Linked DNA regions of Homo sapiens: region 2 is linked to region 1. The links come from fine-mapping of genetic effects on gene expression. Tissue or cell type: whole blood. Region 1 holds a variant in brackets; the other region holds the start of a gene. All regions are shown on one strand. Distances are between the middles of the regions.

Region 1 (7,770 bases):
GAGACACAAAAAACCCTTCAAAAAATCAATGAATCCAGGAGCTGGTTTTTTGAAAGGATCAACAAAATTGATAGACCACTAGCAAGACTAATAAAGAAAAAAAGAGAGAAGAATCAAATAGACGCAATAAAAAATGATAAAGGGGATATCACCACCGATCCCACAGAAATACAAACTACCATCAGAGAATACTACAAACACCTCTATGCAAATAAACTAGAAAATCTAGAAGAAATGGATAAATTCCTCAACACATACACTCTTCCAAGACTAAACCAGGAAGAAGTTGAATCTCTGAATAGACCAATAACAGGAGCTGAAATTGTGGCAATAATCAATAGCTTACCAACCAAAAAGAGTCCAGGACCAGATGGATTCACAGCCGAATTCTACCAGAGGTACAAGGAGGAACTGGTACCATTCCTTCTGAAACTATTCCAATCAATAGAAAAAGAGGGAATCCTCCCTAACTCATTTTATGAGGCCAGCATCATCCTGATACCAAAGCCTGGCAGAGACACAAACAAAAAAGAGAATTTTAGACCAATAGTCTTGATGAACACTGATGCAAAAATCCTCAATAAAATACTGGCAAACCAAATCCAGCAGCACATCAAAAAGCTTATCCACCATGATCAAGTGGACTTCATCCCTGGGATGCAAGGCTGGTTCAATATAAGCAAATCAATAAATGTAATCCAGCATATAAACAGAACCACAGACAAAAACCACATGATTATCTCAATAGATGCAGAAAAGGCCTTTGACAAAATTCAACAACCCTTCATGCTAAAAACTCTCAATAAATTAGGTATTGATGGGACGTATCTCAAAATAATAAGAGCTATTTATGACAAACCCACAGCCAATATCCTACTGAACGGGCAAAAACTGGAAGCATTCCCTTTGAAAACTGGCACAAGACAGGGATGCCCTCTCTCACCACTCCTATTCAGCATAGTGTTGGAAGTTCTGGCCAGGGCAATTAGGCAAGAGAAGGAAATAAAGGGTATTCAATTAGGAAAAGAGGAAGTCAAATTGTCCCTGTTTGCAGACGACATGATTGTATATCTAGAAAACCCCATTGTCTCAGCCGAAAATCTCCTTAAGCTGATAAGCAACTTCAGCAAAGTCTCAGGATACAAAATCAATGTACAAAAATCACAAGCATTCTTATACATCAATAACAGACAAACAGAGAGCCAAATCATGAGTGAACTCCCATTCACAATTGCTTCAAAGAGAATAAAATACCTAGGAATCCACCTTACAAGGGACGTGAAGGACCTCTTCAAGGAGAACTACAAACCACTGCTCAATGAAATAAAAGAGGATACAAACAAATGGAAGAACATTCCATGCTCATGGGTAGGAAGAATCAATATTGTGAAAATGGCCATCCTGCCCAAGGTAATTTATAGATTCAATGTCATCCCCATCAAGCTACCAATGACTTTCTTCACAGAATTGGAAAAAACTACTTTAAAGTTCATATGGAACCAAAAAAGAGCCCGCATTGCCAAGTCAATCCTAAGCCAAAAGAACAAAGCTGGAGGCATCACACTACCTGACTTCAAACTATACTACAAGGCTACAGTAACCAAGACAGCATGGTACTGGTACCAAAACAGAGATACAGATCAATGGAACAGAACAGAGCCCTCAGAAATAACGCCGCATATCTACAACTATCTGATCTTTGACAAACCTGAGAAAAACAAGCAATGGGGAAAGGATTCCCTATTTAATAAATGGTGCTGGGAAAACTGGCTAGCCATATGTAGAAAGCTGAAACTGGATCCCTTCCTTACACCTTATACAAAAATCAATTCAAGATGGATTAAACACTTAAACGTTAGACCTAAAACCATAAAAACCCTAGAAGAAAACCTAGGCATTACCATTCAGGACATAGGCACGGGCAAGGACTTCATGTCTAAAACACCAAAAGCAATGGCAACAAAAGACAAAATTGACAAATGGGATCTAATTAAACTAAAAAGCTTCTGCACAGCAAAAGAAACTACCATCAGAGTGAACAGGCAACCCACAAAATGGGAGAAAATTTTCGCAACCTACTCATCTGACAAAGGGCTAATATCCAGAATCCACAATGAACTCAAACAAATTTACAAGAAAAAACAAACAACCCCATCAAAAAGTGGGCGAAGGACATGAACAGACACTTCTCAAAAGAAGACATTTAGGCAGCCAAAAAACACATGAAAAAATGCTCACCATCACTGGCCATCAGAGAAATGCAAATCAAAACCACAATGAGATACCATCTCACACCAGTTAGAATGGCAATCATTAAAAAGTCAGGAAACAACAGGTGCTGGAGAGGATGTGGAGAAATAGGAACACTTTTACACTGTTGGTGGGACTGTAAACTAGTTCAACCATTGTGGAAGTCAGTGTGGCGATTCCTCAGGGATCTAGAACTAGAAATACCATTTGACCCAGCCATCCCATTACTGGGTATATACCCAAAGGACTATAAATCATGCTGCTATAAAGACACACACACACGTATGTTTATTGCGGCACTATTCACAATAGCAAAGACTTGGAACCAACCCAAATGTCCAACAATGATAGACTGGATTAAGAAAATGTGGCACATATACACATATGCAGCCATAAAAAATGATGAGTTCATGTCCTTTGTAGGGACACGGATGAAATTGAAAATCATCATTCTCAGTAAACTATCGCAAGAACAAAAAACCAAACACCGCATATTCTCACTCATAGGTGGGAATTGAACAATGAGAACACATGGACACAGGAAGGGGAACATCACACTCTGGGGACTATTGAGGGGTGGGGGGAGGGGGGAGGGATAGCATTGGGAGATATACCTAATGCTAGATGACGAGTTAGTGGGTGCAGCGACCAGCATGTCACATGTATACATATGTAACTAACCTGCACAGTGTGCACATGTACCCTAAAACTTAAATAATAAAAAAAAAAGACAATACGCGCACAGTTGAACATAGACCCTTATCAGTAGTTCTGTTTTGCCTTTTGTCTTGTTTCCTCAGAAGCATGTGATCTTTGTTCTGCTTTTGCCCTTTGAAGCATGTGATCTTTGTACCTACTCCCTGTTTTACACCCCCTCCCCTTTTGAAACCCTTAATAAAAAACTTGCTGGTTTGAGGCTCAGGTGGGCATCACAGTCCTACTGATATGCGACGTCACCCCCGGCAGCCCAGCTGTTAAAATTCCTCTCTTTGTACTATTTCTCTTTATTTCTCAGTCGGCCGACACTTATGGAAAATAGAAAGAACCTATGTTGAAATATTGGGGGTGGGTTCCCCCAATACTTCTGTATTTTTCAGATTCTCTTTACTGAGCATATATTATTTTTACAATCAGAAAAAAATGAACGGATTTATTTTCAAATGCCCCCCATTGCTCTTCTTTAAATATACAGAATATATTCTTTACATATAAAACACTGCTCCTTCAGAGCCAAGCAAAGGATCACTCATTTTCCCCTTAACTGAGAACAAGGGCTGCACATGAACAAAACGCCTGCTTTAAAATGTACCCATGGCTGGATGCTGTGGCTCACACTTATAATCCCAGCACTTTGAGAGGCTAAGGTGGGTGGATCACTTGAGCTCAGGAGTTTGAGACCAGCCTGGGCAACATAGCGAAACTCTGTCTCTATAACAAATACACCAAAAATTAGCTAGGCATGGTGGTGTGTGCCTGTAGTCTCAGCTATTTGCAAGGCTGACGTGGGAGGATCACTAGAGCCCAGGAGGTCGAGGCTGCAGTGACCTGTGATTACACCACTGCACTCCAGCCTGGGAGACAGAGTGAGACCCTCTCTCTCAAAAAAAAAAAAAAATGTACCCATATTTGTTTTCATCAGGTATGGTAAGATGACAGACACAGAGAAAACTATCTCTGCAAGAAGAGTTTGTTATGCAGTTCCCAGGAGGAGAGGTGTGTCACGCCTTGCAGGGCCACACAGGAAGAACTTGGGTCAGCCAAGAAGCAGAGGGGGTGAGGGAAAAGCACGATCCAGCGCCTTTAATGTAGTTTCCAGCAGAAAGGCAAGGCAAGGCAGGGAAGCAGGCTTAGGATTGGCTAATCTGTATAACTTTGGCAGGCCCTGGCTATAGGGATTGTCCCTAGTTGTCCCATGCCTGGCCCTGGAGTGATTTAGGGCAGGGGGAATATTGGCTTGCTGTGTCAGAGTTTGATAAAGGAGGTGACTGGGGGTGTGGGCTCTGGATTGACTGGTTTGCATAC[G/A]AAAGGCACGCTCGACCAAGTTGTTTACTCTCTCCCCAAAGTAGCTAGCCCTGGGAGGGGCAGTCTCTCCAGGATAATGCATTATAAAAACAACAACAGCACCTGATTAGTATAATGACATATGTTTCTCTTCACAGCAGTTTGTAATAGCAAAGGTTGGAAACCGTTGAATGGGATTTCCATCACATAAAGAACTGGTTATGTAAATTATGTTACACTGATACAATCCAATGAGCCTCCCTTCAGAGAGAGGCACCCTCATGGCCTAATTACTTCTTTAAGGACCCCATCTCAATACTATCACATTGGCAATAACCTGAATTTTGGAAGGGACACATTCAAACCATAGCAGAGATGTAATCAAATTAAGATGAAATCATTGGGCTGGGCCTAAGCCAATATGACTGGTGTCTTTATAAGAAGAGGGAAATTTGGACATAGACCTATAGACACAGGGAGAAGATGGCCATGTGACAACGAGGCAGAGACTGCAGTGATGCATCTATATGCCAGGCAACGCCAAGAAATTCCTCATGAAGGAACCAACCTTGCCAACACTTTGATTTTAGACTTCTAGCCTCCAGAACCGTAAGGTGATAAATTTCTGTTGTTTAAGCCACCCAGCCTGTGGTACTCTCTTACAGTAGCCCTCCTGACTAATATAGGCCCTTTCTCAACTTTCCCTAGAAGCCCAGGTTTCCTTGCTACAACCCTGGCAGAGGCTTTGGCACATTTCACCCCTCCTCTCTTTGTGATTGGTTTTCACAAAGAAGCTCAAAGTGGAGGAATGATCTCTGGACATGAAGCCTGAGGACCATGCAAGCTCCTTCCTGCCAGAGGCTCTGTTCTGGGTTCTACCTGACCTGGACTCTGAGGGCTCTGAGCAGGGAAGGGTTAGAACCCAGCGTGGATCAAACATTTGAGATGAATCAGCACTGATAGCTGGAATGTGAGCTCCCAAGTGGCTTGAGCTCACTCTGCTCAGGACCCTCTGCAGCTCCTGGGGGAACACTGGCACAGACGGGTGCACAGTTAATATTCAGTTAACACCGGCTGGCTGAATGAAGGGCGAGCTATCTTGAGCCTGACTTTTCTGATCCTTCAATGAGCATGCTAACATCATCCAACCCCTGACCTTGTGGTGAGGATCAAAGACGTTAATGCCCACTAAACGCTTTCTACGATGCCTGGAAACAACTGTTATCAATACTGTGCTATGTTTTAGTAAAGAGGGCTGTTCCCTGAGAGCAAAATTGGCAAGTGGGTCTCACCTCCCATGCTGACTCCAATTGTTGGGTGCGGTTGCATGGATTGATGTCAAAAGCCTCCCAAGGCCCAGTCTGGGCCAGATGCAGGGACTGTCATGATCCCTTAGCAGTGTTTGCTCTGGAAAAGGAGGAACAGGGACCTGGGTGCCATCTCTTCACAGCGCTCCACCCCTAGGGCCTGCTTAAATGGCACAGCCAGCTCCTCAGAGAGACAGGACACACTCTCCTTCTGCCTGCAGTTGTGAGGAAAGAAGGGGCACTGAGGAGGATGGGTCACCCCGGGAGCAGAGCCTGGCTCATATCCTGGTATCCCTGCAGAGGCTGGAGGTGGGGCCAGCACCACCTGAGGACATGTAGCCTTCCCAGGATTCTGGCGTGTGTTCCCATCCCTAGCAGGAAAGAAGTGGAAATTAGCCAATCACCCTGGAAGTGGGCAACCAGTCTTTCTCCCCTTTCCTGTGAATTCACTCAGGACACTGGGGACAAAAGACATCACAGACCCTATCTCCCGTGCTCTTTTACAGTGGCTATTTCATTTAGTACTAGGGGGCTTTTTGCCTGTATTTTATAAATGAGCAAAGAGGACTGGAGGGTCTGAGTGATTTGTCCAGGGTCATCCTCTGTCCTTTGGCTTTTACCTGTGTCACCACAGCCTCCTGGGGAGATGGCTGTGAAAGTGGGCAAAGGGTGAGTCTCAGCTTCACAGGGCTGCAGCATCAGCAGCCTCTCTTGCCTGTCCGTCAGCACTGACAGGGGCAACACCTGGCCTGGCACAAGGCTCTCCGCTTCTTGCCCTCAGGACTTGGAGTCTCTTGGAAGGAGCCTCAGCCCTTCTCTTGGTTCCTGCTTTTGTCTCTAGCCTTCCTAGAGTAGCTCAGATCAGTTCACACCCCTCTACCCACGACTACCCAGGAAAGGACATGATCCCTCATTAAGACCCAGCTATTGCCTAAGGGTCACTGAGGGCCTCAAACCCCAGAGGCTCTGTGGCAGGCACCTGGGAGCCCACTTGGCGGGCCTTGCCCTGGCCCAGACATCACAGACCACTCTCACTGCACTGGCTATTAAGTGCCTGCTCTCTACTAGGGATTCCTAGGGGGTGGCCAAGAGAAGGAAAGACACCCCCACAGGAAGGATGGGCCCAGAAACTGACTTTCCATGGCTCCGACGAGGGGTCCTGAGGCACTCTATCGAAGTGCAAGTCCCTGAATCTGTGTCCCAAGCTCTGAAAATGCAAGAGGTGCTTGGAGCAAACAGGGAGTGTCCTGTCACTGAAGGTCTGCAAGCAGAGGGGTAAGGGACTGTTTGCCTCCTACAGATTTCCCTTCTTTCTCTTCTTCTGGGCCTCTGGGCCAGAGACAGGCATTTTACTTGATGCGATCATCCTCAGCACATGCCTGACACATAGTAGGTGCTCAGTAATTGTTAGCTGTTGTTATTAACCATTATGTGAGTTTAGAGTGCCCGTCCTATTGCAGAGAGGGAGAGAGCAGAGACAAATGGTGATTCTAAGAACCTGTCCCCTTCCCTGGGACTCACTCCAGTGGCTGGTCGCCAGTTGCACCCACACGCGGCTGGCTGCGGGCAGGAGAGCTGGGCTCATTCGTTCTGGCAGCTGTCCCTGCAGATGAGGATCGAGGGTATGTGACTGCCTGAGCAGCTACTTCAATCCTAATGTCCCTTTAATAGCTCTCGTCAAATTGCCACAGCTCTCCCCAGAGATTTTCATGGCTATGGAAAATAAATAGCCATTATCTGACCTCCAGGGGAATGAAGATGTCTGCAGAATTCGGGGAAAAGCAGTTATAAAACTGAGTAGAGCCAGCGCACCCTTTCCCTATTAGCAACCTCTAAGGGAGTCCTAGCTACTGCCTAGGAAATCACAAAATAAATGTATTCACTCCTCAGACTCTCTTTTTTCACCTATTAGTATGTATATGAGTACATTTGGCTTGTGGTAGATCAGGAGAGAGAAAGAAAGAAAAAACAACTACAAAAATATGTAATGATTAGTTAGTCCAGGGGTAGCAGGAAAAGAAGCTGGTCAAGTAAAGGGTTTAATCCTTTTTTATTTTTATTATTTTTTTAGACAGGGTATCACGCTGTTGCCCAGGTTGGAGTACAGTGGTACAACCATAGCTCACTGCAGCCTCAAACTCCTGGGCTCAAGCAATCCTCCTGCCCCAGCCTCCCGAGCAGCTGGGACTACAGTGCACACCACCACACAAGG
Region 2 (6,279 bases), 45 kb after region 1:
ATCTTTAGAACACCTCAAAATAGGTAAAGCAAATATTATCACCCCTTCTTTCCAAGTAAGTAATTTGAGATGGAAGACAGTAAGTGAATTGGTTAATGTCACACAGGGTGTTAGTAGCTGAATTAACTCCTCCTCACCAGCCCCCATGTTCTTCCATAGGACTCCACAAAGAATAATATTAGGACCAAGGAGATGAAAACTACAAATATCAACTGTAACCCACCTTTGCCCTTTTTGGTTTAACATTTTGTATAGTAAAATTTTAAATAATTTATTGCATCAAAAAGGAAAAGGACAGATCAAGAAGTCTGCCTTTACCTGAAAAGGACACATAGTTCATATGCTCTGCTTCTCTTTCCACTGCATTTGAATCTCCTTCAGGGTATAAGCCCTTTGACACAGGACACTGATCTACATAAACTGGTTAAAGCAACATAACATCAATTTTTCTCTTCTCTTGAACTCCTTATCATAAAAGCTGCCCACTCACCTTTCAGAAAATGAGCACAAGAAAATTCATAGCCCTTCATGATCAGTACAACCAAAAGTAAAGCAGCTGAAATGTAAAAGAGTTTGACACCCAAATGAAAGGACATACAGTAAATACCACACATTTTACATGTCTGCATAAAGCATGCTCACATACATTTAGAGTCCCTGACAACCCTGTGAAATTATTCCCATCTTAAAGAGGTGAAGTGACATGCACTGCTATTGAGGAAGACTTCATTCCACATACCCTCCCTCCCGTTTCACTGAGTGCAGCACTCTTTCCAGTACATATCAGCTGTCTGGATAGGAAAGTGCATAGTTTTTTAAAAGGAAGTAAGAGATTTTTAAGGATTTAGACCAAGTACACAAGGTGTAAGGTAAGATTGCATGTAGCCTATATTCTGAGGACTCAAAGGAGAACTCCCATTCAATGGCCTATTCTTCCCTGGAATACAACCACCTGGGTACGGAATGCTACTTACACTGGAACCCAGTACATACATATATTCTTTATTTAAAACTTAAAAGTTTTACAAATACTTATCCTTTACCATATATGGACGTACTCCTATACTATTTAATTTTTTAAGAACTCTAGGCCAGGCGTGGTGGCACATGCCTGTAATCCCAGTGCTTTGGGAGGCCAAGGCAGGAGGATCATTTGAAACCAGCCTGGACAACGTAGTGAGACCCTGTCTCTACAAAAAATATTCAAAAATTGGCCAGGCATGGTGAAGCACGTCTGTAGTCATAGCTACTTGGGAGGCTGAAGTAGGAGGATTGCTTGAGCCCAGGAGTTTAAGGTTACATTGAGCTGTGATCGCACCACTGCACTCCAACTGTCAACAGGGTTGACAGAGCAAGACCCTGTTTCTAAAACACAACAAAACAAACTCTAGTCATGACCCACTCAAGACCCACTAATAGGTAATAATCTGCAGTTTAATAAACATTACTGTACAGGACTTTCGGTCCCTATTTTAAGTACATAAGCTTTTGTCCTATTCTCCAACAGTCTATTGGCAACACACCAGCCAGAGAGAGAATCTTTCAAAACGAATGCCAGATCACACTTACTGCTCTCTGCTTAAAATCAGTGGCTTCCTATCTCTGAGTAAAAGCCAAAGTCCTTGCAATGGTCTATAACATCCTACATGAGGCGGGCGGATCACCTGAGGTCTCGAGTTCCAGACAACCCTGGCCAACATAGCGAAACCCCGTCTCTACTAAAAATACAAAAATTAGCCAGGTGTAGTGACACTCGCCTGTAATCCCAGCTACTTGGGAGGCTGAGGCAGGAGAATGGGTTGAACCAGGAGGCAGAGGTTGCAGTGAGCGGAGATCGTGGCACTGCACTCCCGCCTGGGCGACAGAGCAAGACGCAGTCTTTAAAAAAAAAAAAAAATCTTACATGATCTGCTACTCTAGATCTCATCTCCTAATTCTCTTCCCTTTACTCACTTCAATCCAGTCACCCTGTCCTCCTTACTACTCCTCCAATATACCAAAAACACCTCTGTTTCAGTACCTTTGAGCTTGCTGTTTTCTCTTCCTGAATTGTTCTTCCTCCGGAGAGGCATGTGTTCACTCTCTCACCTCAGTCCGTCCTTCTCTGGCCACCCTATCTATATTGCCACTCTTCACCCCCTCTCCCCACTATACACATGCACATAGACTTCCTAACCCCTTTCCCTGGCTTATTTTTCTCCTTAGCATTTGACATCATTTTCACGGTTGGCTTGTTTATTGGCTCGTTTATTGGCTCTCTTCCCCACCTTGAAGACATAAAATCAAAGATTTTTTTGGTTTGGTGTTGTGCACTGCTGCATCCCCAGGACCTACAACACTTCCTGGCACACAGTAGGTATTAAGTATTTGCTGAATAAATGAATGAACAAGTGGATAGCATCCTGGCTAAGATGTCCAGGTCTGAGGATCAAATCGGGGGTCCACTACTTAACAGCCGTACAAACTTAAAGTTACTAAATTCCCCTAAATCCCGGATTCCTGTCTGTAAAATGACATTAAGACTCTCCATCCGGTAAGATTGCTGAGAAAATTAAATGAGATAACCTGTATCAAACTGATCACTGTACCTGCCAATCAGGTGACTCTCAATAAGTCTTACTGATGCTCTAGTTAACTATTTTCATTTTTAGCGCGCATAATCAACAGAAAGCGCTATAGAAACGTAAGGGAATGCTTTGCCCTTCATAAACTGACTCCTATGAACGCATCTAAAGCAGAATCAGTTTGGAAAAGAAACTCAGTTCCCTGTCCCTTCTCTTCGGGGAGGGTAAAGAATGATACGGCTCCCTGAAGTTTGGGAAGGTGCCCTCGATCGCAGGAAACCCCAGCCCTATCCTCGACCGCCCCGCCCCTACCTTTTTCAGTCACCACGAAGCACTGCTTCACCGGCCCCACCTGACTGAACAGTTCCTCCAGCTGCTCACTGCGGGCCGAGGGCGGGAGGCGGCCCACAAATAAGGTCAGGCCGGCCATGAGACCGGGAAACCCAAAGCGCGTGAGGACGCGAGCAAACTAGGCCGGCGCACGCGAGCCGAAACGCTGGCTTTGGTAGGACAACCAAGCTCACACGCCGAGAGATTCCGGAAGTGCTCGTTGCCCAAAAGAGACCGGAGGAAAACATGGTCGGGAGGGGGATAAAAGGTTCCGGAATGAAAAAATAATGGCGCCCCGGGGCGTAGCTTCTGGAGCGGGGCTCCGCCCCCTGCCCTAGCATCGCCCTCGCCACTTTTGTGTAAACTTGGCATCAATAATTTCTACCCTAGTGTTACAGCTTTTTTAGAATTTGCCTAGCAGGCTTTCTGGTTTTTGCCGGAAGGCCTCCAAAAAGTAATTTTTTTTCTTAATATACAAAATAAAAATAAATAATTTCTACCCTGTTTAAAAATCTCACCTCCAGATCCTCCCCAAAGTTAGCAGGACAGGCAGAAGAAGTCGTTTTTGCCCCGGGCGTAACTCAGGATCTGATATACTGTGGGTGTTTGATATTTTCTGAAGTGCCTCCACAAATTCCCAGATTACGTGCATAAAACACAACCGGAACACTAACACGTAGACATAGATATATCATATACATCATTCGGACGATTCTCATTTTCGGAGAACACCAGCTGTCTGTCACCTCAGCCTCACAAACAAATTGTAGCTACTAAAATACACATAGACACAGATAGTACACAATTATTATTTCAATAAATATATACTGAGCTCTAACTATGAGCCAAGCATTAGGGATAAAACTGGTGAGCAAAGAAATGACAGGGTCCCTGCCCTCATAGAGATTACAGTCTAATGGTGGAAACAGATTTTTTTTTTTGACAGGGCCTCACTTTATCAACCAGGCCGGAGTGCACTGGCACGATCTCGGCTTACTGCAGCCTCGACCTCCCAGGTTCAAGCAGTCCTCCTGCCTCAGCCTCCTGAGTAGCTGGAACTACAGGTGCACCACCACACCCGGCTAATTTTTGTATTTTTTGCAGAGACAGGGTTTCACCATGTTGCCCAGGCTGGTCTCAAACTCCTGAGCTCAATTAGCCCCCCTTAGCCTCCTAAAGTGCTAGGATTATAGGTGTGAACCACCACACCTGGCTGGGAAGACTATTAGTCCAAAAATTCTTACAAATAAATCACAGCACACACACTGCAGGACCACATCAAACACACTCAAAGCAAACATAACATCCAACTTATACACAGAGACCTAGAACCCATGTCCTCCTAGAAACAGAAGATCTTTGTCTCAAGTCAGCTCATCAGACAGACCCAAAGCTGAGAGCTCTTAATTGGCTAGGAAATCTGGGTGCTCCTGGTTCTGGAACACAGAGAGTGTTTGCCATGCCACTGGGCTCAGGACCTGAATAGGTGCAAGAGAGCTACACCTTGCAGAACAACTAGCTCAAAAAAAAGTACCCAAGGCCATTTTTTAAATAATTTTTTTTTTAGCAGACTCTTGCTCTGTCACCCAACTTGGGGTGCAGTGGCACCATCATGGCTCACTGCAGCCTTGATCTCCTGGGCTCAAGCAATACTGCCACCTCAGCCTCCTGAGAAGCTAGGACCACAAGTGTGTACCACCATGCCTGGCCAATTTATTTATTTTTTTGTACAGACAGTTCTCCCTGTGTTGCCCAGGCTAGTCTTGAACTCCTGGGATAAACCAATCCTCCCACTACGGCCTCCCAAAGTGTTGGGATTATAGGCGTGAGCCACTGAGCCCAGCCAAATCATTACTTTTAAATGATAGTAACATGGCAGATAGAAAACTCAAAAACTTTACAGTTTTAGTACCTTTTATAAGGCACTATGGTGAAAATTAAGTTTCATGATCTCCTCAAGCCCCATTCACTTTCAATACATTTTGGATGGCTAGACGACTGGTTGATAGTGATGGGAGTGGAGATTAGGGGGACGCTAAACATCACATTTATGGAGCTCTAGTTCGAAGTAAGTAATCTATGCTTAAAATAAAACTTCACGATTATTTTTTAAAAATACAACTCACGGCCAGGAGCGGCCGTGATCCCAGCACTTTGGGAGGCCGAGGTGGGTGGATCACCAGATCAAGGGTTCGAGACCAGCCTGGCCAACATGGTGAAACCCCGTCTCTACTAAAAATACAAAAAGTAGCCGGGCATGGTGGCACATGCCTGTAATCCCAGCTACTCGGGAGGCTGAGGCAGGAGAATCGCTTGAACTCAGGAGGCAGAGGTTGCAGTGAGCCGAGATTGCACCACTGCACTCCAGCCTGGGCAACAAAGGAAGACTCCATCTCAAAAAAATATATAACTCACTTTGGGAGATCAAGATGGGTAGATCACTGGAACTCAGGAGTTCGAGACTTCTGAAAATAAAATACAAGTTTATTTTTCTTTTTTTCTGAGCAGAGTCTCGCTCTGTCACCCAGGCTGGAATGCAGTGGTGCGATCTCGGTTCACTGCAACCTACACCTCCTAGGTTCAAGCAATTCTCCTGCCTCAGCCTCCTGAGTAGATGAGATTACAGGCACCCACCACCATGCCTGGCTAATTTTTGTATTTTCAGTAAAGACAGAGTTTCACCAACTTGGCCAGGCTGGTCTTGAACTCCTGACCTCAAGTGATCAGCCGTCATCGGCCTCCCAAAGTGCTGGGATAACAGGCATGAGCCACCATACCCAGCCTAAACTTTATTTTTCAACATTAGCTCCATCAAGTTCAAAACACATTTGTAAGCAATGATACCAGCCACTTAGTCCATCTCTAAAGAACTTAAGGTCTTTGGAATTTAAGCATGTCAATGCAGTCTCTCTCTCTCTCTCTCTCTCTCTCTCTCTCTCTCTCTCTCTCTCTCTCTCTCTATATATATATATATATATATATATATATATATATATATATATATATATAATTGAAGAAAAATGTGAGCCCCTTAAAGATTTTTTAAGATTAGGAAACAAAACTAAGTCAGAAGGAGCCAAAATAGGACCTTAAGGTGGATGCCTAATGGTTTCCCATTAACACTCTTGAAAAATTGCCCTTGTTTGAGAGAGGAGTGAGCAAGAGCACTGTGATGGAGAAGGGCCCTCTCTGTTGAAGGTTTCCCCTAGGTATTTTTCTGCTAAAGGTTTGGCTAACTTTCTCAGAACCCTCTCACAATAAGCAGATGTTATCATTCTTTGGCCCTCCAGAAAGTCAGACAGAAAAAAAAAAAAATGCCTTGTAGGCCCGGTGTGGTGGCTCATGCCTGTAATCCCAGCACTTTGGGAGGCCAAGGCGGGCGGAT

What was found. PIP is the estimated chance that this variant, and not a neighbour inherited with it, causes the effect.
Region 2: RBM28 starts here. The variant in region 1 is fine-mapped to the expression of RBM28 in whole blood (TOPMed, PIP above 0.99).

Annotation. Positions count from the first base shown.
Region 1 is chr7:128,295,165-128,302,934 of GRCh38, forward strand. It overlaps RBM28 (RNA binding motif protein 28), which reads right to left. Exons shown (of 19, transcript NM_018077.3): 19 at 2,521-7,770. Among named protein-coding and RNA genes, the nearest start is that of RBM28, 45 kb to the right of the region's middle. RefSeq lists an enhancer at 4,052-4,346. The variant G/A (reference allele first, on the strand shown) is at 4,273.
Region 2 is chr7:128,340,800-128,347,078 of GRCh38, forward strand. It overlaps RBM28 (RNA binding motif protein 28), which reads right to left and starts at 3,109. Exons shown (of 19, transcript NM_018077.3): 1 at 2,877-3,109. The coding sequence starts at 2,994. It also overlaps the pseudogene RNU7-27P. RefSeq lists an enhancer at 3,050-3,249.